Linked DNA regions of Homo sapiens: region 2 is linked to region 1. Evidence: fine-mapped expression QTL. Tissue or cell type: whole blood. Region 1 holds a variant in brackets; the other region holds the start of a gene. All regions are shown on one strand. Distances are from middle to middle. Region 1 overlaps CCDC138 (coiled-coil domain containing 138). Region 2 holds the start of CCDC138 (coiled-coil domain containing 138).

Region 1 (2,920 bases):
AGTTTTTAAATTTTCACATATTTGTGGATTTTATAGTTATCCTTCCTTGGTTTGAGGTTTCACTTCATTGTGATCAGAAATTTTGTAATGATGTCAATCTTTGAAAATTTATTAAGACTTGTTTTGTGGCCAAACACGTAGTTTATCTGGAGGATGTTCCATGTACACTTGAGAAGAGAAGAATGTATCATCTGCTGTTGTTGGGTAGAGTGTTCTGTATATGTCTGACAGATCGAGTTAATTTATTATGTTGTTCAAGCCCTCTATTTCCTTACTTATATTCTGTCTAGTTATTCTATCTGTTTCTGAAAGTGGGGTATTGAAGTTTCCTAGTAGTATTATGTTACTATTTCTTCAATTCTGTCAATGTTTGCTTTATAATATTTTAGAAGTCTGATGTTTCAGGGCATAAATATTTCTCATTTATATCTTCTTGGTGAATTTACCTTTTTATCATTTATATAGTGTCCTTTGTCTCTTGTAACAGTTTTTGACGTAAAGTATATTTTGTCTTATATTAGTATTACTACTACTAGTCTTTTCTGGAGACCATTGACAAGGATTGTCTTTTTCCATCCTTTCATTTTCAGCTGATACGTGCCTTTAGATCTAAAATGAGTCCCTTGTAGACAGCATACAGTTGGGTGCTGGCTGTTTAAATCCAATCAGCCACTCTAGTTAGTTTTTTGATTTCATCTATTTGCATTTAAAGTAATTACTGATAAAGGAAGGACATACTTTTTTTTTTTTTTTTTGAGACAAAGTTTCGCTCTTGTTGCCCATGCTGGAGCGCAGTGGCACAATCTCACCTCCTGGGTTCAAGCAATTCTCCCGCCTCAGCCTCTGGAGTAGCTGGGATTATAGGCACCCACCACTACGCCCGGCTAATTTTTGTATTTTTAGTAGAGATGGGGTTTCACCATGTTGACCAGGCTGGTCTTGAACTTCTGACCTCAGATAATCCACCTGTCTCAGCCTCCCAAAGTACTGGGATTGGAGGCATGAGGCACCACACTCGGCCAGGAAGGACATACTATTACCATTTTGTTAATTTTTTTCTGTATGTTTTGTAGCTTTTTTGTCCCTCCTTTCCTTTCTTACTGCCTTTGGGTTTCACTGATTTTTGTGTGTGTTACACACTTAGATTCCCTTTTCATTTGCTTTTGTGTATATTCTGTAAGTATTTTCTTTGCAATCAATTACATAAAACATCTTAAAGTTATAACTATTTTACATCAATAATGCCAACTGAATACAATAACTCTGCATCATTATGGCTCCACATTCCCACTTTATGTTACTGATATCACAAATTCTATTTTTTTTGAGACGGAGTCTCACCCTGTTGCCCAGGCTGGAGTGCAATGGCATGATATCAGCTCACTGCAACCTCTGCCTCCCAGGTTCAAGAAATTCTCCTGCCTCGGCCTCAAAAGTAGCTGGGATTACAGGCACGTATGACCATGCCTGGCTAATTTTTATACTTTTAGTAGAGATGGGGTTTCACCATGTTGGCCAGGCTGGTCTCAAACTCCTGACCTCAGGTGATCCACCTACCTTAGCCTCCTAAAGTGCTAGGATTACAGGCGTGAGCCACCGCACCCGGCCACAAATTATATCTTTATATGTTGTATTAACCCCTAACATAGACTTACAGTTTTTTTT[A/TA]ATACTTTTGTCTGTTACATTCTATGCAAGAATTAAAAATCAACTTACATACCAGGATTACAATAATATAGGCTACTTACTATATTTGTCCATTTATTTGCCTTTAACACAGAATGTTATACTTTTATATGGCTTCATGTTGCTGTGTAGTGTGCTTTCATTTCAACCTGAAGGACTCTCTTTAGTAATTTTTATAGGGCAGGTGTAATGGTTACTGAACTCCCTCAACTACTGTTTATCTGAGAAAGTCTTAAGGACGGTTTAGCTGGATATAGTACTCTTGGTTAACAGTTTTGTTGTTTGTTTTTTTTTTTTTTTTGCACTTTGAATGTATCATCCCACTGCCTGTTGGCCTGCAAGGTTTCTGCTGAGAAATCTGCTGAAATTCTTATAGAACTCCCTTGAACGTGACCAGCTGCTTTTCTCTTGTCAATTTAAAAGATTCTCTTTGTATTTTACTTTTGACAATTTGATTATAATGTATGTTAGAGGGGGTGTCTTTAGAATTGTCCTCTCTGGAGTTCCTTGAGTTTCTTGAACTTGTATGCCTATTTCTTTCCTCAAAAAAAGGAAAGTTTGGGATGTTTTCAGCCATTATTTCTACAAATAAGCTCTCTCCTCCTTCTCCTTCTCTCTTCTCATTCCAAGACTTACATTACACATATAGTGGTTCACTTGATGATCTCCCATAAGTCCCTCAGACTGTCGTCACTTTTCTTCGTTTTTTTCTCTTTGCTCCTCTGACATAATTTTATTATTTTGTTAGAACTTTTTGTAGGCACGGGGTCGCACCATGTTGACCAGGCTGGTCTTGAACACCTGGCTTCAAGTGACCCTCCTGCCTTGGCCTCCCAAAGCACTGAGATTACAGGTGTAAGCCACTGTGCCCAGCCTCTGACTCAATTTTAGATTATCTGTCTTCAAGTGTGTTGATGTCTTCTGCGTAATGAAGTCTGCTGTTGACTTTTATAGTTCAGATATTGTATTTTTCAGCTCCAGAATTTATTTGGTTCTTTCTTATAATTTGTATCTTCTAGTTTATACTGTCACTTTGTTCTTGCATCATTTTCCTGACTTTGCTTAGTTTTTTGTGTTCTCTTTCCATTTTTAAATTATCGGTTACAGTTTTTAAATCATATATCACAAAGTTCAGAGATCTGCATTTCTTTAGGGTGAGTTTCTGAAGCTTTGTTTTCTTCTTTGATTTGATCAATGTCCCTGTTCCTTTGTATGCCTTCTGATCCTTTTTTAATGG
Region 2 (2,920 bases), 34 kb after region 1:
TGAGTGGTCTCGAACTCCTGACCTCAGGTGATTCGCCTGCCTCGGCCTCCCAAAGTGCTGGGATTACAGGCGTGAGCCACCGCGCCCAGCCTCAAATTAAATTTTTGAAACCCCCAAATATACAAAATACCGGCTTACCTGGGGAGGTTAGAGTTCTTCTCTTATACTTAGACTGATAAAAATTTGAAAAATCATACTAAAAAAAAAAAGAAAAGATTTAATTTGTATACTAAAAATCAATTTACTGTCTCAAAATATTTCCCCACAAATTATGTATTAATTACAAAGGTTAGAGTGGAGAAATCTTGTAGACACCATCTTAACCAAGTGATCAAAACTAATATCATCAATAATGTGACAAACCAACGTCATGTTCCTCCCCACAGCAGGCCACACATCACTCATCTCATGCTCCTGCCAAAAATGCATAATCAATCTAACGAAGAAGCATCTATAAGATAAACCCAAACGGAGAAACAATCCAATAAATAATTCTTACACTTCTCAAAAAAAAAACAACCTTACAGAAAACAAAGGCTGTGAACCTGTTCCAGATTAAAGGCAACAAAAAGGACAATCAAATACAATCAATGCTCGTTCTTGGGTCGGATCTGCACTAGGAAAAAATTTTCCTATAAAAGGTTTTATCGAGATAATTGCTGAAATTTCTTATGAACTCTAGATTACCAAATATTATACCAATTCTAAATTTCCTGAAAATATTACTGTGGTTATTAAAAGACAACGTCCTTATGCTTAGGAAAAATGCACAAGTTATTTCTATTCAGAGGTAAAGGGGCATGATGCCTGCAAATCACCCTCAAATAGTTCAAAGGGAAAAAATGCGTTTGTAGGGAGGGAAGGGGAGAGAACGAATGGTAAAGCCAATGTGGCAAAATATTAATTTGTGAATGCAAGTGAGGGTACAAGGGAATTCTTGGTAATACTGCAGCAACTTTTGAGTAAGTCCGAAATTATTTCGAAATAAGCCGCTTTTAAAAAGCAATTCAATTGTTTTCACAACTCCACTCACATCACTGCAAAAAAAAGCTGAATAGCACTTTCTCCAACACCACACCATGCCCAGTATACCAGGAACACAGAGGCATAGGTGAAGCGGCACCCCCGCACCCCCGCAGCGCAACGCCCGCCCCTCCCGCCTGCTTCCACGAGGCCCAAGCCGCAGCCACGGCGGGAGTGCCGGGGCCGGGACCAGAGCCGCTGCGCGCCCCCAGGCCGGCTGCGCGGGGCACGGAGCGGGCCGCCCCCCAGCAGCAGGAGCCCACCCGCGGACCTCAGGCGGCGGCTTCACCTCGTCGGGGCAGCTGCCCCCGAGTCCGTAGCGGCTTTTGAGACTCTCCACTACTAAATCCTGCCCCGGTGGCTTGACGACCCTCGGCTCCATAGCACACAGCAACCGTACCAGTCTCCCCGGGAACCGCGTTCATCAAACCCGCGGCGCTACGCGGCCGCAGTGCGTCACGACGTGCCAGACCCCGCCCCCCCGAGGCACGCACGGCGGCAGGGAAAGGGCGGGGCGGGGCGACCCGGAGACTGCAGCCCGGCTTGTCAGCGCGTCCTCCAAGTTTCTCGTGCTAGCACTACACACCTCGTAACTGAGTAGTATTGCATCTCCCCGCGATAGTCCTGCCCCGGCTGCCTGGGTGCCACGGGTTGAGGGGCACCGAGGCCCCGCACCTGCCTGCAGCGCTCCGCTCCAGCTCCATTTAACCTGTTAAGTTTGGTGTGCGTTGCGCTCACCACATAGACCGGTCGTTCCATCAGAAGTGACCTTTGCTAACTGCCATATAAAAGAAAAACCAAGAGTATATCTGAGCCGGGAGTGGTGGCGCGCGTGTAGTCCCGGCTGCTAAGGAGGCTGAGGCGGGAGCATTGCTTTGAGCCTGAGAGTTACATCTATCTTGGGTAACATAGCAAGACTCCCATCTCTTAAAGTTAAAAAAAAAAAAAAAAAGGGAAAGCTGAGCATAGACATTGCAGATTACCTCACTTTCCCTGTGTTCCATATGGGGTATAACAGGGTATTAAAAAGAATAGTTAGAATGTAAGCACCCTGGAAAAAAAACTTTTTTTTTTTGAAAAGAAAAAAGCTTTTGCCAATACCTACAACAGTGCTAACCATAGTACATAGTATACATCAACCTGAAAACCTATGTTAAACAAAACTGACTGAGGGGAACTGTACAACCACTTCATTTTTCTCATTCATAAAATTACAGTGGTGTAATCTTTTACTTTCTAAATTGTGACTGTCAGCTGCATCTCTGGACTAACAACTCCTAAATTCTCTGGATTAAAGTTCCCAAATGCCCAAGTTTTATAAAATCTGTACTTCAGCAGTTATTATCTGAAAATTACTTAGGCCATACTTTTTGCCATAAAGTACCACTTAAGATGTACAAATAATGAATTTTATTCTATCTTTAAGCAGATTTTAATGAGACAACATAAAATCCAGTTTAAAAGGAAAGATACATATTATCGTGGGTTTAGACCACATCAGTGATTAAATAACAAAGAGAAATCAAAGTCCTTTCCTGAAATGTGACACAAAGACTTTCTCATAAATGCCACAAGCCACTTTTAAGCATCTTTGGAATACTAATACGGGAAAAGTCAGTTTACATGTCATTTTGTCAAATTTTTGGTCAAAGTTTTTAAAGCTTTTTAATTTGTAACTTTAGTGCTTTAGGAAAGCATACAAATCTGTAAAAAGTCTCTTAAAAAGCACTTGCATTAACTTAAGAATTTATTCTAAAATCATGACGAAGGCATCAACTGTCTCAGCTGAAAAGTTACAACACACTTTACATCAGTTTATATTACATAGATTTCCAAATAAGCCAATTTGAAATATTTAGTGTAAACATATGTAATCCATGGTTCAAGACTGAACTGA

The links.
Region 2: CCDC138 starts here. The variant in region 1 is fine-mapped to the expression of CCDC138 in whole blood (INTERVAL, PIP 0.94).

What each region holds. Positions count from the first base shown.
Region 1 is chr2:108,819,764-108,822,683 of GRCh38, reverse strand. All of the region lies in intron 10 of CCDC138 (coiled-coil domain containing 138), which reads right to left. It also overlaps a transcript of RANBP2 not described here. Among named protein-coding and RNA genes, the nearest start is that of CCDC138, 34 kb to the right of the region's middle. The variant A/TA (reference allele first, on the strand shown) is at 1,666.
Region 2 is chr2:108,785,308-108,788,227 of GRCh38, reverse strand. It overlaps CCDC138 (coiled-coil domain containing 138), which reads right to left and starts at 1,457. Exons shown (of 15, transcript NM_144978.3): 1 at 1,313-1,457; 2 at 139-196. The coding sequence starts at 1,405. It overlaps RANBP2 (RAN binding protein 2), which reads right to left. Exons shown (of 29, transcript NM_006267.5): 29 at 2,419-2,920. RefSeq lists a silencer at 1,059-1,648.